Homo sapiens: one gene and its partner. The main gene of each other region encodes a partner of the protein of the gene in region 2 in a complex. Each region holds a gene or a part of one and is shown on either strand. Other genes may lie near its edges. A codon is read from its position in the direction of its gene.

Region 1 (12,479 bases), on a different chromosome or scaffold from region 2:
CCTTAGGCCCCACCATGCGTCAATGCACATGGTCACGTTCTCTCCTGCCCCCAGCTTTTGTACATGCTATTCATTTTCTGCGGGTGGTCTGTGTCCCACTGGCCCGTCAGCTAGGCACACTTCTCCTCCTTTAAGGCCCCCTTGAAGATCACCTCCTAACAAGCCTTCCTGACCCCATCTTCCTTGTCTCTCACCTCCCGCTTTCATCCCCTTTCCCCACGGTGACCTCGCAGCCACCTTGATGTTCCCCAGGCTCCCACTGTTCACCCGCAGTCCCCTCCCCAGCCTTCAAAAATATAACCCTAACCATGTTACACAGCTAACCTCTGCTCCAAACTTACTTTCTTTTTTTTTTTTTGAGATGGAGTCTCGCTCTGTCGCCCAGGCTGGAGTGCAGTGGCACAATCTTGGCTCACTGCAGCCTCTGTCTCCCAGGTTCAAGTGATTCTCCTGCCTCAGCCTCCCGAGTAGCTGGGACCACAGGTGCCTGCCACAATGCCCGGCCAATTTTTGAGTTTTTAGTAGAGATGGGGTTTCACCGTGTTGGCCAGGCTGGTCTCAAACTCCTGACCTCAAATGATCTGCCTGCCTCAGCCTCCCAAAGTGCTGGGATTATAGGCATCAGCCACCGCACCCGGCCCTCTGCTCCAAACTTTCTAGTATGTCCACCAACAGATGAATGGATGAACAAAATGTGGTCCAACCATACAACAGAATATGACCCAGTCATAAAAAGGAACGGAGTACTCATCCATGCTATACAATGTGGATGAACCTTGAAGACAGGATGCTGAGAGAAGCCAGACACTAAAGGTCACTTAGTGTGAGATTCCATTAACAGACATGTCCAGCATAGGCTCATTCATAGAAACAGAAAGCTGATTAGCAGTTGTCTGGGGCTGGGGGGGCACATGGGGAAACTGGAAGGGTTGGTATCCTTTTTTTTTTTTTTTTTGAGATGGAGTTTCTCTGTCACCAGGCTGGAGTGCAGTGGTGCGATCTTGGCTAGCCTGGAGTGCAGTGGTGCGATCTTGGCTAGCCTGGAGTGCAGTGGTGCAATCTTGGCTCACTGCAACCTCTGCCTCCCGGGTTCAAGTGATTCTCCTGCCACAGCCTCCCAAGTAGCTGGGACTGCCGGCACGCGCCACCATGCCCAGCTAATTTTTCTATTTTTAGTAGAGACAGGGTTTCACCATGTTGGCCAGGCTGTTCTCGATCTCTTGACCTCGTGATCTGCCCACCTCAGCCTCCCAAAGTACTGGGATTACAGGCGTGAGCCACTGTGCCACCGTGCGTGCCTGGCCTTGGGTTGGTGTCTTTTTGGCATAATAAAAATGTTCCCAAATTGCCTGTGGTGATGGTTGTGGAACTCTGTGAATGTACCCAAAGCCACTGAATTGTACACTGCAAATGGGTGAACTGTATGCGAATTCTATCTCATAAAGCTATTTTTTTTTAAAGCCTCTTTCAGTGGCTTCCCTGCCCCACTTCCCTCGAATAAAGTGGAAACAGCTGCTCATGTGTGTCAAGGTCCTGCCTAACCTGGTCACCTCTCAGCACTCTGGCTCATGACCTGCTCTCTCTGGCCACACCATCCACACAGCGATTTCCTCAACATTCCAAGCATGCTCCTGACTCGGGGCTTTGATGTTTGCTCTTCCCTGCCCTGGAAAGTTCTTTCTTCTGTAGCTACCTGGCTATCCCTTTGTTCAGGTTCCCATTCAAGTTCCCTCCTCAGGGGAACCTTTCTGACCATCCTCATCAGTTCTCCCTTTACCTATTTATTAACATAACTGACATACATGTATGTATCTGCTGCATGGACCTGGGCATAATGCTTGCAGATCATAATGGCCCATGTAGATGAGAAACAGCCAGACCCAGCCTTTGCCACCAGGAGTTTGTTCAAGTGCCTGCTGGGGAAGACTTGAGGCCCAGGCCTGGCTGGGCCTCTCTGAACCCAGGGTGGGGATGCTAATTCCATCCATCCAGCCCCAGCACTGGACTTTCGCCCTCTCAAACGTAAGCTCCCTGGGGCAGGGAACTGACAAGTCTCATCCACTGCTATTACCTCCAGTGACTGAACACACAGGGGTTGAATACACATTTGCTAGAAGCTGGTACCCCAGTCCTGCACGCACCTTGACTCACCTGTGTCCTTTCTGCAGCCCTCTTGCCAAAATGGCTGCCTGGCCCACAGAAGACACTGGCAAAATATGGCTGGATCAAAGTATTAAAGCGCAACAGGGTCTACGCGGTGTTGAGCGGTTCACAAAGCACTTTCTCAAATGCCAACCCTTTCACTGGAGGAATCAATGGGCCCCTGAGGAGGCAGTGGCGCCGAGCCAGGCTGGTGAGAACCCATTCCAGGGAGCTACAGGGCCAAGTTCACACCACAAATGATCTATGGGGCTTCTGAGAATAGGCTTTGATGAAATGTAACTTTTGGCAAAATGTTAAGGATTGAGTGGCAGAAAATGAATAGCCACTCAATCCTTGTCTATAAAGAAAACCCAGAGGTACACTCAGCCAATATAGAATTGCTTCTTTTTTTTTTTGGAGACAGAGTTTTGCTCTGTTGCCCAGGCTGGAGTGCACTGGCACAATCTTGGCTCACTGCAACCTCTGCCTCCTGGATTCAAGCGATTCTCCTGCCTCAGCCTCCTGAGTAGCTGGGAATACAGGCAAGCGCCACCACGTATGGCTAATTTATGGAATCACCTTTAAGCATTAAGGTGATACTGCTTCAGGACTAGACAGCCCAGTGTGCCTGGGCTTCCTAAAACATTCCCCATTTCCTGTCACACGTGTACAGGGACACAAAAAATCGAGGAGCACTGTTAGGTTGGCCAAGCTCCACAGCAGCACTCCGCCCTACACTCCTCTGGGTTTTATTAACATGCCAAATTTAATTAGGAAGTGTAAACTTTATGAGGCCTAAGAATTATGAGGTCTGACCTTCAAGGTCATGGTGAATTAGACTTTCCTAGAAGACAGAAGGCTACAAATGGAAGGAGGGGAATGAAGGGGTGGGAGGGAGGGATCTTAGGGTCAGGTGCCACCTCCACCTTGCTAGGTAACTTTCACCAAGTCACATCCTCATCTGCAAATGGAAGAAAGCCTCTTTAAAGCTCAAAGTAACTCTAAAGAGGGGGGTTGGGCTGGGCGCGGTGGCTCATGCTTGTAATCCCAGCACTTTGGGAGGCCAAGGTGGGCGGTCACGAGGTCAGGAGTTCGAGACCAGCCTGGCCAACATGGTGAAACCCCATCTCTACTAAAAAAAAAAAAAAAAAAATACAAAAATTAGCTGGGCATGGTGGCAGGTGCTTGTAATCCCAGCTACTTGGGAGGCTGAGACAGGAGAATCGCTGGAACCTGGGAGGTGGAAGTTGCAGTGAGCCGAGATCGCGCCACTGCACTCCAGACTGGGTGACAAAGAGAGACTGTCTCAAAAAAAAAAAAAAAAAAAGAGGGGGGTTTGTGGGGAAGGCTGGGAAACTGGGATCTGAGTGAATGCAAGCCAGTCTGCTCACAGTTAACATCATTTCTTTCTTTCTTTTATTTTTATTATTATTTTTTAAGACAGGGTCTCGCTCTGTTGCCCAGGCTGGAGTGCAGTGACACCATCACAGCTCACTGCACCTTGACCTCCTGGGCTCAATCGATCCTCCCACCTTGGCCTCCCAAGTGGCTGGGTCTACATGGGTGAGCCACTGTGCCCGGCTGATTTTATTTTATTTTTTGTAGAGATGGGGTTTGCCATGTTGCCCAGGCTGAATTAACGCCACTTCTTGATTGGTTGGAGCACAAGAATTACCCTAAAGTTTAGCCTTGGAGTGGGGGAGGGGGAAGAATTCAGAAACATCTGTCTTCAGAGGCTGGATGCTGTCACTGCAGGAGCCATTCATTTGCTTCCTCTAGATAGCCTCTGGTTGTGGTGACAACCCCTTATTGTCTAATTCTAATCCTCAACCACCAGGGCACTAGGCTGGGCAGACAGTGTCACTCCTGCTCTAAAGACAGCAGGGCTCAGAGAGGGGTAGTGCACATTCAAGGGCAAACAGCAACTGGAAACCAGACGTAATGATTTCCAGTCAATTCTCTCTATTTTACATCTGGCATATAACTGTTTTATAAAGCACAGCTCCGCTGGGTGCGGTGGCTCATGCTTGTAATCCCAGCACTTTGGGATGCCAAGGCAGGCAGATCACAAGGTCAGGAGTTCGAGACCAGCCTGACCAACACAGTGAAACCCTGTATTTACTAAAAATACAAAAATTAGCTGGACGTGGTGGCGGGTGCCTATAATCCCAGCTACTAGGGAGGCTGAGGCAGGAGAATTGCTTGAACCCGGGAGGCAGAGGTTGTAGTGACCCGAGATCCTGCCGCTGGATTCCAGCCTGGGCAAAAGAGCTAGACTCCGTCTCAAAAAATAAAATAAAATAAAATAAATAAAGCATAGCTCCTGGAGGAGGGCAAGAATGGAATTAGCACATTATCTTGGGGTTCAGGGAGATAACACGATTCTGTCAAAGTGACACAGTAAAGCAAAGGCCATTCCCTAGGTTTTCTTGAGTCGGAATAAACTCCTGGACTTAGTGACCGTTCCCCCACTTTCCCCATCCCTAGCAGGGCTACAGAGCTCACAAGCCACTCAAATAGGTGTTACTCCTGGGTCAAACCTTTTCATTGTGGGCCAGGACTGCTTTTGTGGCACTGAGAGAGGTCAGCTCCACTTCTGTGGACATCACAACTGAGATGCACCAAGCCAATTCTGTTCAACCACAATGTGGGCTGGCCCTACAGGAAAAGCTGTTCTAAAGTGACAGCTGGAGTCTTGGGCCCTTTGATAGGGAAGTCAAGGCTGTCTGTGGCAGTGGCTGATTTAGTTTCTCGCTGAGGCTTTTATCTTGCATCTTCTTGGGGATGACAGGTCCCAGGGCAGGCAGTGCTGTCACTTGCCATTGCTGTCATTCCTGGAGCAGGATGAAAGGTGGGCAGGGAAAAGGTCCTGACTCTTCTTATCATTCCTTCTAGAGGAAAATACGCTTATGAGGGGAAGCATGGTCAGGGAGAGGGGCTCAACCTCTGAACGCTCCAGAGAAAAGAGCAGGAATGGTGTGGGTTAGAGTCCCGGCTCCAAGGTGCATTAGCTGAGCTTGTCATCAGCTGGGAGTGTGCAGTGGCATCTCTCTAGGAGAGCTAAGCCTCGAGTTTTGGGTTGAGACACAGCCAGGTTCAAATTCCATCAAATCCCATTCTCACCACGTGCAGACTGTGTGGCCTTGGGCAAGTTCCATGCCCTCCCTGAGCCTCAGATTCCTCATCTTGTCAGACGGGCTCATAACAGCACTTAACACCAAGAACTGAAGAGTGTGAAAATGCACGTGAAGCACTTGGCACATAGTAAATGCTCATTAAGGTGAGATGCCACTGTCTTTTTCCCATGGCCAATTCCCCATGACTCAGTTTCCACTTCTGTAAGGCAAGAGCCTCAAAAGAACCGCTTCGAGGGCTGCTGCTAGGACAGATCGAGAGGACGGGCGCGAAGACCCCAGCCCAAGACATAACACGCCCTAACGAGCGGGCTGAGGGTCGGAGCCTCAGTCTCCCTATCTGCAAAATGGGCACCTGGTCTCCCCCACCACGGCCCAGGAACCCCCGAACGGCGGTGCAGGCGACTGCTCTTCTCCCTTTAGGCCCCCTCGACCCTCTCAGCGCCCTCGGCCCGTCCAGCCCTGTAGATCCCTCAGCCCCAGCCCCTCAGGGGCGCGCCCAGCCCGGGCCTCCGGCGCCCCCAGCCATTCCCCGGTCCCGTTACCTATGGTGGAGATAAAAGTGGAGTTGAAGGCGTCCTCGGAGAAGCGGAACAGGACACAGGTCTTCCCCACCCCCGAGTCCCCGATCAGCAGCAGCTTGAACAGGTAATCGTAGGTCTTCGCCATATTACACTCTCTCCCCGACGGGAAGTGCGGCCAGCGCCTCTCCACTGGCCACCAGCACCGTCCATCAGCACCGAGCCCGCCCCTTATTGGCTCCAGGCCCGCTGCGCGTCACCGCGGCCGACGCCCGCCCCTGCGTCCCGCCAGTCGCGGGGAGACCTTGGGAGGGGGCGAGCGGAGCGCGGAGCCGGAAGCAGCCCGAGCGCACCTCCCATTGGCCGGCACTAGGGAGAGCACGGGCTCTGATTGACCAGCAGTGAAGAGTCGCGGGGCTTCAAATGGGGACGAGGCGGGGGCGTGGCATTATGTGGCCCCCGCCTTCCACCCCCGACTCGGGCGGCCCGGCCCCGCCCCACTGTAGGAGAGGGAAGGCAGGGAGCGGCGCCAACCGCTCGCGCGCCGGCAGCCTGGCGGGGCGTGGCTTGGGGTGCGTGCGCACGCGCGCCCGGAGTTCCGTTAGGCGACAGCAGAGGGCGCACGCCAGTAGTTGGGGCGGGTGTCTCTGGGTCCCGCCCTCACAGCTCGCGCAGGCGCAGTAGGCACCGAGGCGAGCGCGGGAAAGCAAGGTAGCGCTCTCAGCCTTGTCTGCGGCCTGCGAGTCGGGGCAGTGGGGGCCTAGGGAGGAAGGAGAGAGGAGGAGCTGTATACTCGAAAAGTGACCCAAGCCGGACGCGGTGGTTCACGCCTTTAATTCCCACACTTTGGGAAGCCGAGGCGCGTGGATCACGAGGTCAGGAGTTCAAGACCAGCCTGGCCAAGATGGTGAAACCCCGTTTCTACTAAAAATACAAAAATTAGCCGGGCGTGGTGGCGGGCGCCTGTAATCCCAGCCACTCGGGAGGCTGAGGCAGAGAATTGCTTGAATCTGGGAGGCGGAGCTTGCAGTGAGCCGAGATCGCGCCATTGCACTGCAGCGTGGGCGACAGAGAGAGACTCCGTCTCAAAAAAAATAAATAAAAGTGACCCAAGACGAGCTCCGAGGTCTGCGGCCTAGCGATCTGCTTAGAGATACCCAAGGCCTCCGCCATCTGAGCGGCTTCACCGCCACAAGCTGTGCCCGGAAGCGCGCGCCGGCCTCCTCAGGGCCCGCCCTCGGCCACCTTAGGGGTTGTCCGGGCCAGCCCGGGGATGGTGGGGGGGGAGGGGTTAGAGCAGTGAGGATGCTGGGTCCTATCTAGGGGCCAGGGCTCTCAACGTTGAAAAAACTGGCCGGGGCGTTGGCTCCCGTCTGTGATCCCAGTGCTTTGGGAAGCCAGGAGGTTGAGGGTGCAGTAAGCCGTGATCGCCCCACTGCAATTCGGCCTGGGCGACAGAGCAAGACCCTATCAAAAGAAAAAAAGGCTGGGCGCGGTGGCTCAGGCCTGTAATCCCGCACTTTGGGAGGCCGAGGCGGGCGGATCAGGAGGTCAGGAGATCGAGACCATCCTGGCTAACGCGGTGAAACCCCGTCTCTACTAAAAACACAAAAAATTACCCGGGAGTAGTGGCGGGCGCCTGTAGTCCCAGCTACTCGGGAGGCTGAGGCAGGAGAATGGTGTGAACCCGGGAGGCGGAGCCTGCAGTGAACCGAGATCGCGCCACTGCACTCCAGTCTGGGCGACAGAATGAGACTACGTCTCAAAAAAAAAAAAAAAAAAAAAAAGAAAGAGAAAAACAGAGGAGAGATACATTTGGAAAATCGGGCTTGCAGCTGGGTGTGGTGGCTCAGGCCTGTAATCCCAGCACTTTGGGAGTCAGCACTTTGGGAGGCAGGAGGATTGCTTGAGCTTAGGAGGTCAAGACCAGCCCGGACAAGATAGGGAGATCCCCATCTCTACAACAAATAAAATTAGCTGGGCGTCATGGTGCACGCTTGTAATCCCAGCACTTTGGGAGGCTGAGGTGGAGGTTCATTGGAGGCCAGGAGGTGGAGACCAGCCTGGGCAACATAGCAAGACCTCCATCTCTGCAAAAAAAAAAAAGTTTTTTGGCCAGGCGAGGTGGTTCACACCTGTAATCCCAGCACTTTGGGAGGCCAAGGCAGGTGGATCACCTGAGGTCAGGAGTTCCAGACCAGCCTGGCCAACATGGTAAAACACCATCTCTGCTAAAAATACAGAAACTAGGCAGGTGTGGTCATGTGCGCCTGTAGTCCCAGCTACTCAGGCGGCTGAGGCACCAGAATTGCTTGAATCTGGGAGGCGGAGGTTGCAGTGAGCCGAGATTGTGTCACTGCATTCCAGCCTGGGTGACAGAGCAAGGCTCCATCTCAAAAAACAAAAAATTTTTTTAAAAAATTAGCCAGGTATGGTGGTGTATGCTTGTAGTCCCAGCTACTCAGGAGGCTAAGGTGGGAGGATCCCTTGAGCCCAGGAGGTCAAGGCAGCAGTGAGCTGTGATCGCACCATTGCACTCCAGCCTGGGCGACGGAGCAAGACCCTGACTTTTTTTTTTTTCTGAGATGGAGTCTCTCACGGTCACCAGGGCTGGAGTGCAATGGCGCGATCTTGGCTCACTGCAACCTCTGCCTCCCGGGTTCAGGCGATTCTCCTGCCTCAGCCTCCCAAGTAGCTTGGATTCCAGGCACCCACCACCACGCCTGGTGTGGTGTATTTTTTTGTATTTTTAGTAGAGATGGGGTTTCACTGTGTTGGCCAGGCTGGTCTCGAACTCCTGACCTCGTGATCCGCCTGCCTCCACCTCCCAAAGTACTGGGATTACAGGCGTGAGCCCCTGCACCCGGCCCCTGACTCTTAAAATTTTAATCCCAGTACCAGCCCAGCAAAACGATGTTATTGTTTTTTTCCTGTTTAATGGTGAGAAAACTGAAGCCAGAGGAGGTTAAGTGACTTTTCCCCCTTCCTGCTTAAAAGTGGGAATTTGGTATCTGAACTCAGAGTGCCAAGCTTCCCAGGCCGCAGTTTGATCACTAGGGCTCCCTGCTTCTTAGAGATGGTCCAGTCTGTTCTAGGTCACTCTGGGGCCTCCGGGGCCTTGAGGCTTACTTAAGGATCTGTGGAAGGAGGGCCCAGCCTTTCCTCCTCCCTTCCACTTCAGCTCATTCTTCTGCTAATCTAGCTCTGGTTAAAAAAGCTTCAACCAGAGGCATTGACCACCTACAGGCCTCAGCCTCTGTGGTATTTGATAGTCTTGATCACCTCTGAATATTCTTTTTTCTTGGTATTATCCTCATTTATTTACTTATTTTTGAGACAGGGTCTTGTTCTGTGGCCCAGGCTGGAGAGCAATGGTGTGATTTCACTCACTGCAACCTCCGCCTCCCAGGCTCCAGTGATTCTCCCACCTCAGCCTCCAGAGTAGCTGGAACTACTGGCATGCACCACCACGCATGGCTAATTTTTATTTTTTGTAGAGATGGGGTCTTGCTATGTTACCCAGGCTGGTCTGGAATTCCTGGGCTCAAGCCATCCTCCCACCTCAGCCTCCCAAGTAGCTGGGACTACATCTGCACGCTACTATGGCAGGCTAATTTTTTTATTTTTTGTAGAAATGGGGTCTCCCTATGTTGCCCAGGCTGGTCTCAAACTCCTGGGCTCAAGAGATCCTCCAGCCTCCACCTCCCAAAAAGCTGGGATCACAGGTATGAGCCACCATGCCTGGCCCTATACCATTATTATTTTTTTTTTTGAGATGGAGTTTCACTCTTTGTTGCCTAGGCCGGAGTGCAGTGGCACGATCTCAGCTCACTGCAACCTCTGCCTCCCGGGTTCCAGTGATTCTCCTGTCTCAGCCTCCTAAGTAGCTGGGATTACAGGGGCCCACCACCACATCTGGCTAATTTTTGTATTTTTAGTAGAGATGGGATTTCACCACATTGGCCAGGCTGGTCTCGAACTCCTGAGCTCAGGTGATCTGCCCACTTCGGCCTCCCAAAGTGCTGGGATTACAGGTGTGAGCCACCACGCTTGGCCCCTATCCCCCTTTTTTTTTTTTTTGAGATGGAGTCTCGCTCTTTCACCCAGGCCGGAGTAAAGTGGCATGATCTCGGCTCACTGCAACCTCTGCCCGCCGGGTTCAAGCGATTCTTCTGCCTCAGCCTCCCGAGTATCTGGGATTACAGGCACGTGCCACCACGCTCGGCTAATTTTTGTTATTTTTAGTAGAGACAGGGTTTCACCATGTTGGCCAGGCTGGTCTTGAACTCCTGACATCAAGTGATCCCCTCAAAGTGCTGGGATCACAGGCATAAGCCACTGTGCCCGGCCCTGTCCCTATTTTATTTGCTGGTTTCTTCTCCCTACCACCTCTGCCTCTGCCTCCCCTTCTTTGTTTGTTTGTTTTTTCCTCAGACCCCATTGAAGTCTTTTTGAGGTGGGGGAGGGGTGGGTTCTGCCTGTCCCTTAGTGTTTGTGGTCCTCGTTGTTCTGTCTCTGTTCTCACTTTCTGGGGGCTCCTAATCCATGCTGACCATTCTCAGTGTTTTATCCTTAGCCCAGCCATCTCTTCACATCCACCTGCGTTCAGGACATCTCCCTTTGGATTTGTCAGATACTCCTAGCTCAGCATGTTCACAACTGAACCCATCAGCCAATACCCAGACTGGCTTGTCCTGATTTTCCTTAGGAGTGAAACTTAAGCTGTCTTTGACATCTGCCTTTCATCTCTCATCCGTCACATTCTGGTTTTTAAGGAGGTTCTAAATAGCTCTTGAGGGCCGGGCGCGGTGGCTCATGCCTGTAATCCCAGCACTTTGGGAGGCCGAGGTGGGTGGATCACCTGAGTTAGAAATTTGAGACCAGCCTGGGTAACATGGTAAAACCCCGTTTTTCCTAAAAATTAAAAAAATTAGCCGGGTGTGGTGGGCATCTGTAATTCCAGCTACTCAGGAGGCTGATGCAGGAGAATGGCTTGAATCCGGGAGGCGGAGGTTGCAATGAGCCAAGATTGCACCACTGCACTCCAGCCTGGGTGACAGAGCAAGACTCTGTCTCAAAAATAAAAAATAAAAAAACAAATAGCTCTTGAATTGCATTCTTCCATTTCCATTGCCACAGTGGAATCATTACATTTCTCCACTGGTCTCCCTGACCATTTTCTCTAACCCAGATTCCACCCTGCAGTGTGCTTATTCTAAAATACTTTAGGCTGGGCACGGTGGCTCATGCCTGTAATCCCAGCACTTGGGGAGGCTGAGGCAACCAGGTTACTTGAGGTCTGGCATTTCAGACCAGCCTGGGCAACATGGCGAAACCCTGTCTCTATTAAAAATACAAAAATTAGCTGGGTACACATCTGTCGTCCCAGCTACTCGGGAGGTGGAGATGGGAGGATTGCTTGAGCCCAGGAGGTCGAGGCTGCTGTGAGCCATGATCACGCCACTGCCCTCCAGCCTGGGTGACAAGAGTGGAATCCTGTCTCAAAAAGCAAAACAAACAAACAAACAAACAAAAAAACCACTTCCTTTAATAGCCATCTGTGGTCTCTGGGCAGGATAAAGTCCAAAATCTTCCTCTTAGCGTTTGAAATCCCTCACAGTCTGGTTCTGACCTCATGCTGTGTTCCAGCCATACTTCATGGCATTGGGAACTCCCCAAAAGTTGGGACAGGTCCGTTGAACACAGTGAAGTGTGAAGTGCTGAGGCCATAAGCATGACTAAAACAGCATCCCGAGATGAGATTACAACCCAAGTGGGGAGGGAGGAGGGAGAAACAGACACACAAAGGAGGAACTGTGGTCAAATCATGGCAGGGCCTTTATTGGAGGGTGTGACTTTATTCATTCACATTCTCTGCACCAACCATCTGAATCAGCCCAGTGCCCATTAAAGGTTGGATTGGCCTAAAGGAAATGCTTTAATTGTATACTTTTATTATAACTACATTTTCGGTTATTTATTTTATTTATTTATTTAAAGACAGAGTCTGTCACTCAGGCTGGATTGCAGTGGCGCGATCTCAGCTCACTGCAGCTTCCACCTCCCAGGTTCAAATGATTCTCCTGCCTCAGCCTCCTGAGTAGCTGATTATAGGCACCCACTACCACACTCAGCTAATTTTTATATTTTTAGTGGAGACGGGGTTTCACCATGTTGGCCAGGCTGGTCTCAAACTCCTGAATTCAAGTGATCTGCCCACCTCGGCCTCCCAAAATGTTGGGATTACAGATGTCAGCCACCGTGCTCAGCCAGTTATTTATTTTTTATTAATTTATTTTTGGAGAATGGGATCTCGCTATATTGCCCAAGCAGGTCTTGAACCCCTGGCTGGGCTCGTTATCCTCCCCTGTCTCTGCCTGCTGTTTTTTTTGAGACAGAGTTTTGCTCTTGTTGCCAAGGCTGGAGTGCAGTGGCAGGATCTCAGCTCACGGCAACCTCCGCCTCCCAGGTTCAAGCGATTCTCCTGCCTCAGCCTCCCGAGTAGCTGGGATCACAGGCATGCGCCACCACACCTGGCTAATTTTGTATTTTTGGTAGAGATGGGGTTTCTCCATATTGGTCAGGCTGGTCTCGAACTCCCAACCTCAGATGATCCGCCCGCCTTGGCCTCCCAAAGGGCTGGGATTACAAGCGTGAGCCACCGTGCCCGGCCTGTTATTTT
Region 2 (11,576 bases):
CCCCAGGAAACACACAACCAAAAGAAAATGCAGTAACCACAATCCTCACCCCACCAGGCCCACCCTAGGAGGGCCAGCAGGGCTCTTGCCCCGACCCACAAAATAAGAAGGAGACCTAGACTCCGTGGCCCTCGGTCTCTCAGTGTCCCCAAGCCAGCAGGGCCTGGCCAGTGGCCAGACCAGCCTATTCCTCAACCAGTGCCCAAGATGACCCTGTCCAGTTACCTCCTGGAACTAAAGACCCCTGTTGGTCATGGGCACAATGGATTCATTCAATAAGCAGGGGAGGGGACAGCAAGGGTGGTTCTGAAACTGGACGAAGGAGACGGCTGGGAGGGCACACTGGGACCACTCAGCGGGCTGCCAGGGCCCAGGCCTCTAGGGAGGCTGCAGAAACCCCGACCCAGGGCCTGGCTCCCCGGGGCGGTGCCTTGGCACAGGGGCCTGTTCAGATTCACGCTCAGCCTTTGCGGTGACACTGAGGGGACGGAGGCTCACAGCCATGTGATTAACATCCAGGGACCAAGGGAGTCCCAGGAAAGGGTTGGTGGGCCAGCTCTCAGGCCAGCCTGCAAGCCCAGCAAAGCTTGGCTCCCCTAGAGAGCGGCCAAGTCTTCAGCCCCAAACCCACAAGCATGTCAGGTTCCCAAGCGCTAGGCCACATCCACGCCAGCCCACCACTCCACAGGTGTCATGGCCTGGAAGCTCGGGACAATTGCAGGGAGATGCGCTCCTCCACCTGGTTTCCAGATGAGGCCCCTGAGGTTCAGAGAGGGATGGTGACCTGGCCAGAATGCACAGCAAGGAAGTGGCAGGATGGGAACTGAATGCAGAGTACAGGCATAGCGTATCACGTGGCCTGTCACCCAGAGGAAAGGGGATGAATGGCGGTTTTGGAGAAGTGAGGCAAGAGGCAGATGGGGTTTGAGGAAGTCTGAGACAGCGCCCAAGTACTGGAGGTGCCACCCAAGAATGCTGTACAGCCAGGCAGGACCTGGGCTAAGAGGGGACAGCAGAGGGGACACACAGAAACAAAGATGGGAAGGGGGAATTGTGGGAGGAACAGGGGCTGGATGGGGGGGCAGGAAAAAGCAATAACAATAATTAAGATAATTCAAAACTAAGGAAAAGGTGAAAGCTGAGAACAGCGGTACCCATGCTGGGAGTGAGGAACTGGGAGGGGGTCTTTCAGGGACAGGAAAGTGGGTGGCTGAGGCATCTGGGAAGTGGCACGTCCCGTAGGCAGCTGAGGGGGAATAGGCAGGATGGGGTGACGCTGTCGAGTGGCACTGGTTTCGGGGAGCAGCTGCAGCCTGAGCCTGGATGAGGGGCTGTCAGGGAGGACAAGGGCTTGAGAGCCAGAAAGGACGAGAGTGTTGGACACCAGAGCCGAAGAGTGTCTGGGACCCGGGGATGAAAGAGATCGTCATGAGTCTCACTGAATTGGGCCAGGAACCAATGAGCTCAAGTCAAGGAGGGGACAAAGGGACAGGTGGGAACCAAGGTGGGCCTGGGCCACAGGGGAAGGGGAGCCAGAGTAGGGAGAAGGGCACAACAGCATGTCCTAGTAGAGACCATGGAGGAGGAGTGGGGGAGAAGGTCAGGAACAGCTGGGGATGGGAAGCAGATCAGAACACCTAAAGCAGGTGAGTCAGGCCACGCCTCCGCCGGCCATAGCCCCAGGCCACCAGGCCAGTCCAGCCCACCCCTGGCGGGGGAATCCAGCCCTGTCTCTCCATGGGAGCCAGCACAGGGCCTAGGAGGGGGCGCATCTCACTACTCTTCTACAGGGCTGGGCACGCAGTACATCCTCAAATGCGCCTGTGGCGACCCTGCCCATTCAGTCCAAGAATTGACACCGAAGACCTCCAATAGCTAGTGTGTATACTGAGCACCCATTATGTGCCAGGCACCCCACCAGCCATGATCCATCCAATCTGCACGACCAGGCAGCCCCCTTCTTACCATATCCTATTTTGATTTGCATCTCCCTCCCGCTACCTCATTTCCAAAGACCTATTGGGCATAAATCATGTGCAGAGCTCGGAGGGTCTAGGACAAGCAGGATTCTAATGAGGATGTCTGCCCCCAACACCCATGTCCTGATTAAGGAACAGCAGGAAAGATCTCCACCTGTTGAGGGGTAGAGTAGGCAGTTAGATCACGGAGGGCTTCCAGGGAGCAGCAACAGTGAGGGTTATACAACCCCTTCCCAATGAAGAGGCCTGTGTGCCTGACCTGGAGCCCTCGGGCCATACTTCAGACTCTTGTCTCACGGCCTCTAGTCCCCTGTGACTTGGGCCTTACAGGCAGGAGCCCACAGATCCATGCCCTTAGAATAGCCAAGGCCCAGGGCAGTGAAGTGACTTGCTCAGGATCACACAGCCAGTTGATGGCCCCTACAGCCCTGCCTGCCGCAAAAACATGCTCCCCAACCCCTGGGAGGTTGGAGTGGTCTCATCTCATTCCTGGGCCATCCATCAATGCCTGGCCCTCTCTAGCCATAGGTATGATGAGCCCCGTCTCTGGGGAAACTGAGACCAGGGGGCTGGAACAGTGTCATGCAGAAACTTGAACGCTGGCTTCTGCTGACCAAGTCCCAAGTGTCCAGCACCATGTTAGATACAGAAGTACTCAAGACGCTGTCCTCACCTCGTCACCTTGGAGCAGGCTTGGCACCCAAAACTATGAATGTGTGAAACTGTGGGGAATCGGAAGGGGGACAACCCAGTTTGGAGGGGCACCTAAAGTCAGACTGGAGCTGCCTCTGGGTTTGGAGTTCAGGGCCCATGCTCAGGAGTCCCAAAGAAGAGGACCCACCCAGGCTGTGGCAGAGTCCAGCCACTGCCGCCCACCCCAGAAGAGTAGCCCAGGGCTGGAGCCATGACCAGGACCTGGCCATTAACAAAGCACAGCCACCAAGAGAAAGATCTCAGTTCATTTCACAGGTGAGGAAACGAAGCCCAGAAACATCACTGGCCCCGCTGGGGTCACCAACTCCTAATCCCAGCTCCTCCTGTTCTAGGATCAACAGTCCCAAATATACACCTGCCAGAGCTGTCATCAGACTTGGTCAGAGTAACCTGGCAAGTATGACTCTGAACAGGACACCTCCCAACTGCTGCTGGGGTCTGGGTGAGCTCCTAGGACACCAGGCACCCAGTGGGGGCTAGCAGCTTGGCCCCTGACTCTAAATCCCTGTTTCCTCACCCAAATGGGGGGCCATAAAAATACAGAGCTCAAGGTAACCCCCAAGCTCTGCCTCACCCCTTCCGCCAGCTTCTCACTGCCCCTCATCCTTTCCATCTGCATTTATGAAGCACCCATTATGATATGAGCTCAGCACCCAGCTAGGCCCCTGGGGGTGCAGGGGTGCATGCAGGAAGTGAGCCATACTGAGGATTCTGTGGGGGTCAGCCTGGCAGCTGGCTCATCCAGAGTGTTGCTGGGAATATGGCAGGGGGGCTGGATGGTGGGGAGGGGTCCCTGCCCAGGATATAAGGCTCTCTGACTCTCCTTGAAGCAACCATCCATCTACTGGTGGCTCTCAGCTGTGTCTGGCCTTGGCCTGGGTGCCTCCAGGGAAGGACATTCTCTGACCTGCGATCACTCCCACCCCAGAAACCATTTATTTTACCTAGAGGCCCAGAGAAGGAAGTCCACACTCTCAAGGTCACACAGCAACTAACTCAGGGGCTGTGTTGCCTGAGTCCACCCAGCCGGCACAAGACACAGGCTTCCGGCAGACGAGGCTGCTCCCCAAACACAATTCACCCCGGGCAGGACTGCCCTAACCTCTCCAGGTACCACAAACCCACCTCAAGCACTTTCTCCTAAGCCAGCCTCCTTCCTCCAAGCACAATGCCAACAAATACACTAGTGGCCTTCAACTCTCTCCCTTTAAGAGTCTCAAGCCCAGGCCGGGTGCAGTGGCTCACACCTGTAATCCCAGCACTTTGGGAGGCTGAGGCGGGCGGATCACAAGGTCAGGAGATCGAGACCATCCTTGCTAACATGGTGAAACCCTGTCTCTACTAAAAACACAAAAAAATTAGCTGGGCGTGGTGGCGGGCGCCTGTAGTCCCAGCTACTCGGGAAGCTAAGGCAGGAGACTGGTGTGAACCTGGGAGGTGGAGCTTGCACTGAGCCGCGCCACTGCACTCCAGCCTGGGCGACAGAGTGACACTCTGTCTCAAAAAAAAAAAAAAAAGAGTCTCAAGTCTTAGGGCAGGGCGTGGTGGTAAAAGCCTGTAATCCTAGCACTTTGGGAGGCTGAGGCTGGTGGATCACCTGAGGTCAGGAGTTCGAGACCAGCCTGATCAATATTGTGAAACCCCGTCTCTACTAAAAATACAAAAATTAGCCGGGTGTGGTGGTGTGTGCCTGTAGTCGCAGCTACTCAGGAGGCTGAGTCAGGCGAATTGCTTGTACTCAGGCAGCGGAGGTTGCAGTGAGCTGAGATCTCGCCACTGCACTCCAGCCTGGGTGACAGAGCAAGACTCCGTCTCAAAAAAAAAAAAAGTCCCAAGCCTCTCCACACCTCACCCCTAACAGGAGCCCACTCTCTCCACACCCCCTGCTGGGGATGAAAGGCCATCCCTCCCCTAGCATCGCAGCTCAACCTTTGCTAGGTGCCATGGAGTGAAGTGGATCCTGCCTGCCTTTCCGGGGGGCTTCCCTCACTCCCCAGCTGTAGCTGGGCAGTAGCCCTCTCCTGGGACCACTCATCTGGCCCAGGGGGCACAGGAGTACAACCTGTCCCCCATTCTGGCCACATTTCCTCCACGACCTGGTCTTTCCCGGCCACGGGGAAGAGGAAGTGTTTGCCCAACTCCACAAAAACACCACAACCTTTCTGCACATACAGGGCAGGGGTCCCACATCAGATGGGCCAGGAACTGCAACTGCCCCTGAGAACCAGTGGCCTGAACAGACACAGCCACTGGGGCCACTAATCCAGGACCCAGAGTCTCTGCTACCCCACTCCAGGCTGCGGGGCCGGGGCGGGGGGGGTTCCCACTCCACACCTCTGAGAGCCTCCGTACTTCCAGAGCCCCACAAGGAGGTTCTGCCCTCAACTTGGGAGCCACCCTGGCAAAGACCCAGCCCCTCTTTCCCAGCTACACTGCTTTCCAAGAGTTCATCCAGCGAAGGGGTTGAGGGACAGGTTGGGAGGGTGGGCTGGGGGTCCTTCCTCTAGGTGCATGCCCCAGAGTCGTGCACACTCTTCCCCACACCCCAACTCTTCTCACTTGCGCTCCTGATGAGCTAAGAGGAGTTGACGCTGTCACCCCGGGACGGTCGGCTGCCCACCCTTCGCACCCTGCACCCCGAGAGACACCCCCGACCCCTCCCCCGGAGTCTCCTGGCTGCAAGTCGGCTCGCCTGCAGGCAGGGCGGGGGCGCACAGCACCTCCGGGTGGCGGCGCAGACCCGGCGGGGACCCCCGAAATCCTCCCGTCCCGGGAGGCGACCGCGGCCCAGACCCAGCGCGGGACCGCGAGCGCGCGCGGACCTACCCGCTCCACATCCCGGCGCCTCGGGGCGCCCAGGCGTCCGTTCCCAGCGCCGCCGCGTCCTCCCAGCGCCGCGTCCCCGCCCGCCGCCGACTCCGCCAGGGGCCGAGCCGCCCCACCGCCTGTCAGCCCTGCCCGCGGCCGGTCAGTAGGTCTCAGACGCCTGGGCTCGCGGCCCCCAGCCCAGCCCCGACCCTGCCCTGGGCGGGTCACGTGGCGGAGGGGGGAGCGGCCCGAGGACACGTGCCCGGCCCCGCCCCTCCGCCGGCCCGGCGCTGGGATCCGGCGCGCGCTCCCAAGGCCTGGCCCCACCCGGCCCGCCGCGCCGGGACAGGGAGACCACGGCGCTCGGAGGGAACCCGGCCCCCAACATCCCGCGGGCCGCGCCGCGCTCAGACTCCCCAGCTGACTCCTCCTCTCCAGTCGCCCTCCGCACCACCCACTTTGGGCCACCCCTGCTCAAGAACCTACAATGGCTCCCGAGCTCTCAGCTCTTCGATTCTCACACAGATTGTCACTTAAGGCCAGCAGACACCCTCCCCCCTCCTCACCCGGCCCTCCTTCCCTAGGCTGTCTGCTTAGTGCCTGTCCCTGTGCAACATCCTGCCTGCTGGGAAGGGGAGGGGACAAACCCGAAACAAGTTTTCTGAGTCCTACTCTCTGAGTTTTATCCCGAAGGAGTTTCCACTTCTGGTCCAACTCTCCTCACTCAGCCTCCTGCCACTTAACACGCTCTGCCCATCCCTGCCTTTACTCACCATCTGCCCTCTGGATAGTATTCCCCACCCCACCCCCACCGACACACACACATACACACACCTGTCTGGTCCCACATCCTCCGTGAAACCTTCCCTGAATCCCAGACGACTGGTCTACCTGTCCCTCAGTTCCTCTGTCCCACCCATTCTGAGTCCTGATCATTCGTCTCAACTTCAGCCTGGGACTGGACCAGTAAGAGCAGAACCCGTCTTCTCTCCCGCCAGGTACCATGGCTCCCACCTTCCCTGTCTAGGGGAGGACTGGGAGCGTGGTGGGAGGTACTTCCCCTTCTAGGTGCTACCAGAGGTCCCAGTGCTACCCCTCCAGGCCCACTGACTCAGGCCGCAGGCTCAAGTTAGTCAGATCTTCGTTTGAGGATACATTTTATTCATTCATTCTACTCATTCATACATTCAGCCACTCCATCTGAGCATAGACTATGGGGCATGCAAGGGGCTGGGGACCCAGCAGGAAACTGTACAGACATAGGTTCTGCCCTCCTGGGGCTCCACGTTGGTGGAGGATGGAGGATGGGGGACGTATTCTCTAAGACCTCCACGTCCAGGGCACAAATAGACAATGCTCTTTCCCCGCTGGGCACAGCGCACAGCAAGGTATGGAATCTGGAGAGTGGAGGCGAGGCTGGATTCTATGCCTTGCTTGCTCCCTTGGCCAGCACTTTGTGCAGTGAACAACCTAGGCAGTTCTCCATAGCATCCCTTCCAACTTTCTAGAATCATTCAGCCCAGGCGTCCCATAGCCATCACTCAGCAGGGCAGTTGTTTCCATGGCCACGGCTTCCAGAGGGCAGGGATTCTCTCTTTCTTGGAGCTATGTTCCCCTACCCCACCCCCAGCCCAGCTCAGGGTCTGGCCCACCCAAAGCAGATGTCCACATGTGTTTGCTGGCTTGAATCCCTCATCAGTTGGTCTTGAGCAACTGTTGTCTTCCTGGCCCTTATTTTGTTCACTATTTAGAGAAGGAGGAGAAAATGACACAAAAGGAACCCAGCACAGGGCCCTTGCCCTCCAAGTCTTCACAAGCCCCGGCAGGAGATAAGTCATGGCAACCCAGACCAGTGGGAGATAAAGGGTGGAGGAGGCGTCAGCTCAGGGCTATGTCCCTGGAGGAAGAGTCCTCAGCCTGGGAGGTCTGGTGGACCGGGGAGGCCCTTGAGCGAGGTCTTGAAGGACAAGTCTGTGGTCACCACTCTGGAAGCATCCACACTCAATTTCTAACCAAAAATAGCCTGTCATCCATGCTTCCTGCTACCATGGACTCCTAGGGCTCACTGCCTCCCCCAGTAGGGAGGACCCTCCTGCTCAGCTGAACTTGCTCCTCAGTTGAAAAGGATGGGCTCGGAGAAGTTAAGGAACCTGCCTGATATCACACCAGCCAGGGGCAGTGGGGCTGAGTCCTCTTACACCCGTTTTCCAAAAAGACCACCCAGAAACTAGAGGCTCACTGGCAGCTGCAGCTGTGTGCAGCCAGGCAGCAAGAGGTTCCTGAGCACATGCTAGGTGTCTGGCCAGTGGCAGGGAAGGGATAAATAAAAGTTGTGTCCTCTGCCTACAAGCCACTGCCCTCCTCAGCCTCCCTCCCTCTATCTCCCTCTGCCTGCTCCATCCCAAGCCTGGCAGCCTTGACCACAGACCCTTGGCTGAAGGCAGCTGAGGAGCAGGAGACAGTCAGCCTGGACAACCCAGGCCCTGATTCTGGACTTACAGGTGTGTCCTCAGCTCACTGTGTGACCCAGGATGAGTGTCTTGCCCTCTCTGAGCTTCAGTCTCCACCTCTGTACAGCCACCAAATTGGACAAGACAATCAGAGCCATTGCCTAGGACTCTCTGAGCCCAGCTTCTCACACTGGCTGCCCTGAAGCTTGCCAAGACTCCCCCTCCCCTCCATGCCCCAGGTCCTGAGCTCACCTGTCTGTGCCCCAGGGCTCTTCTCTCAAGTTCCCCTCAAGTACAGGGCACAGGCCTGATGGGGCGTAGCGGACAGTCCCTGCACTCATGGCCAGGAACACGGGACATGTCCCTCGGGCGGGGCACCCAGCGTGCTCCTCAGAAGAGTCCATGCTTGCAAGGCCAGACTGAGGGTCCCTCTGGAGGGTGCCGGGAAGGGAGGTAGCAGGAGCCTTCTTCCCCCCACCAGGCTGAGCCTCACACTAACCTTTGCTATCTCCCCAGAGCAGCAGCCTGGGAGGGAGGCACCACCTCCCAGGACAGCCGCTATCTCCTTCAACCCCGTAATTATTAACTCCTGTGGCTCCTCAGGCAGCAGAAGACACTGGGCCCTCCTTCCTGGGCTCTGGGCCAGGGGAGGTGAGACACCTCTAGGGGAGGCCCCGTGTTTCAGCCAGGCTCCCAGATGGTCCGCTTGTCCCCTCACCACGCAGGCTGGGGTGTTGGAAAGAGCCCGTCCAGCCTTGATCCTGTCATAGCTGTCATAGCTGGCTGTGTAGCCCTAGACAGGCCCTCCTGCCTGTGACCACAAACCTGAATATCCCCTTAAAACTTTGTTATTGGTGGGGCGCGGAGGCTCACGCCTGTAATCCCAGCACTTTGGGAGGCTGAGGCGGGCGGATGACCTGAAGTCAGCAGTTCAAGACCAGCCTGACCAACATGGTGAAACCCTGTCTCTACTAAAAATACAAAATTAGCCGGGCATGGTGGCGCATGCCTGTAATCTCAGCTACTCGGGAGCCTGAGGCAGGAGAATTGCTTGAACCCGGGAGGCGGAGGTTGCGGTGAGCTGAGACTGGGCCATTGCACTCCAGCCTGGGCAACAAGAGCAAAACTCCGTCTCAAAAAACAAAACAAACAAACAAAAAACTGTTATTTTTTATTTTTTTTCTTTATTTTTAAATTCTTTTTCTTAGATTTGAGATTCCCAGTTTTGTTTTTTGTTTGTTTTTAATTTTTCAAGGCAGGGTCTCGCTCCGTCACCCAGGCTGGAGGGCAGCCTCAAACTGCCCAGCTCAAGCCATCCTCCCACCTCAGCCTCCTGAGCAGCTGGGACTCCAGGCATGTGTCACCATGCTTGGCTAATTTTTAAATTTTTTTTATTTTTTGGAGAGATGGGGTCTCACTACCCTTAAAACTTCTCACCACCACCGCCCAGGAACAACTCAGCGGTAGCAGCTGGGAACACAGGCCCGGGGTCAGACGGGCTGGATTCAACCCCACTTTCAGACGGTGTGCCTTTGAGCACGTTAGCCTCTCCGTGCCTCAGTTTCTCCAACTATGAAATGGATTCTCACCCTCCAAAGCACACCAGGCCAGTTGCCATTGCCCAGATGTGCCCATTCCTCTTCTTTCCACATACTATCCCCCCTGACTGCTATCTCCACTGCATCCTGCCTCTGCTAGTAAGTTTCTCTTTTGTTCATACCCCCTCCTCTAGGAAGCCCTCCCCTGTGGGTTACTTTTTTCCTCTGCAGGCACCAGAGCCCTTAGACACATGGTTAGCCCTGCGTCATGACAAACACCCCCTGGAACTGTTGGACACTCCCACAAGAACTGAGTGGCCCTCTGGGCAGAGGCTGGGCCATCCTCGTCACCCTTCTCAGTGTCACCTTGCCTGGTACACAGACTCCATCCACCTGTGGGATGGTGTGAATGTGCCACCCTGTCTTCATTTGGCCCAAATTCTCATCCTAGTTCTGCCACTCGCTGACTGTGTGGCCTTAGGCAAGTCACTTAACCTCTCTGGGACTCAGTTTCCTCATCTATATAAAATGGGAAGTTCTCCCCTGTGAAATAGTGAGTATTAAAGCAGATAACATTTGTGGCCAGGTGCGGTGGCTCATGCCTGTAATCCCAGCACTTTGGGAGGCCGAGGTGGGAGGATCGCTTGAGCCCAGGAGACCACCCTAGGCAACAAACCGAGACCTCATCTCTATTATTTAAAAAAAAACCCGTCTCTACTAAAAATACAAAAAATTAGCCAGGCGTGGTGGCGGGCGCCTGTAGTCCCAGCTACTCGGGAGGCTGAGGCAGGAGAATGGCGTGAATCTGGGAGGCAGAGCTTGCAGTGAGCCGAGATCACGCCACTGCATTCCAGCCTGGGTGGCAAAGCGAGACTCCGTCTCAAAAAAAAAAAAAGTTTAAAAAAAGAAGACAGCTGGGGGCGTTGGCTCACGCCTGTAATCCCAGCACTTTAGGAGGCCGAGGCGAGTGGATCATCTCTGAGGTTGGGAGTTTGAGACCAGCCTGACCAACATGGAGAAACCCCATCTCTACTAAAAATACAAAATTAGCCGGGGGTGGTGGCGCATGCCTGTAATCCCAGCTACTTGGGAGGCTGAGGCAGGAGAATCGCTTGAACCCAGGAGGCAGAGGTTGCGGTGAGCTGAGATCCCACCATTGCACTCCAGCCTGGGCAACAAGAGCCAAACTCCGTCTTGGAAAAAAAAAAAAGAAGAAGAAGATAACATTTGTGAAGTGTCTGCCACAGTGTAGACTGAAAGAAGTGTTTCCTTCCTTCAGTGTTTCCTGCCCCGTCCTCCTGCCTGTACTTCCCTCTTCTTTCTGGTTAGCCTCTGAGTCCCTGCTGGGGAGAAGCTGCCAGTTCCTCACACCCCACCCTGCCCCGCCCCGCCCAGCGGATAACAGTATCTCCCACTTGGGCTTTGGGCTGCGAAGCTCTCTCAGCCTAATGCAAACCAGATGCTGTCCTCCCTTTCCTGGCAATGAATTTTCCATGGCCTGCTCCCACCCGCTTCCTGTTTTTGCTCCTCTCTGATCCCCCTGCTCAATTCTCCTGTGCCCCCACCTTCCTCTGCTGGGCAACCTCTGGGCTTACCTGGAAACAATTAATGGAAAACAGGATATGTGAAGGGTGGGGGTCTCCCCATCACCCCAACATGGCAAGAGGGGAAAGGGCTTGGCCTGGCTGGTGGCATCATATGTGGGAGTTGGTCCCTCCCTGCCAAGACCCCACCAGCCTCTTGGCCGGGGGCGGGAGAGGGGAAACTGAGTCAGAGTTGCTGGAGACTTTATGGAAAAACCTGTTATGTTTCTGGACATTTAGACACAGCTTGGACTGGATGGGAAGCTTTGAGGATCTTGTCTTTGGTTGTAACTTCTTAGAAAAAAGGCAGAGCCAGAAAAGGCCCGATTGTCTCTTCTTGCAGATGAGGAAACTGAGGCTCAGAGACTCATCCAGGGTCACTTGTGAGTCACAGCAAGAAGCAGCCAGGTCTGGGACGTCTTGTCAGTAAAAGCCGCTGCCTGAAGTCGCCTCCCCTTCTTGCTATCTCAGCGTCATTCCTGCCTGCCCTTCCCCTGCCTCTGC

The links.
Region 1: the proteins of RAB3IL1 (region 2) and RAB8A are in contact, whole or in part, in a crystal structure (PDB 4LI0), measured with the Homo sapiens proteins. Residues at the interface, in NP_037533.2 of Homo sapiens: Arg104, Glu108, Leu111, Glu112, Thr115, Ala116, Phe119, Glu120, Ala122, His123, Arg127; in NP_005361.2 of Homo sapiens: Lys10 (codon at 5,918), Phe33 (codon at 5,849), Ser35 (codon at 5,843), Phe37 (codon at 5,837), Ile43, Asp44, Phe45, Lys46, Ile47, Gln60, Trp62, Thr72, Ile73, Thr75, Ala76, Tyr77, Arg79.

What each region holds. Positions count from the first base shown.
Region 1 is NC_000019.10:16,105,368-16,117,846, reverse strand, and holds the start of RAB8A (ras-related protein Rab-8A), read right to left. Parts: upstream 5,959-12,479; 5' UTR 5,946-5,958; coding exon 5,822-5,945; intron 1-5,821. UniProt on the Homo sapiens protein: The small GTPases Rab are key regulators of intracellular membrane trafficking, from the formation of transport vesicles to their fusion with membranes.
Region 2 is NC_000011.10:61,911,838-61,923,413, forward strand, and holds the start of RAB3IL1 (guanine nucleotide exchange factor for Rab-3A), read right to left. Parts: upstream 5,730-11,576; 5' UTR 5,531-5,729; coding exon 5,520-5,530; intron 1-5,519. UniProt on the Homo sapiens protein: Guanine nucleotide exchange factor (GEF) which may activate RAB3A, a GTPase that regulates synaptic vesicle exocytosis. Promotes the exchange of GDP to GTP, converting inactive GDP-bound Rab proteins into their active GTP-bound form.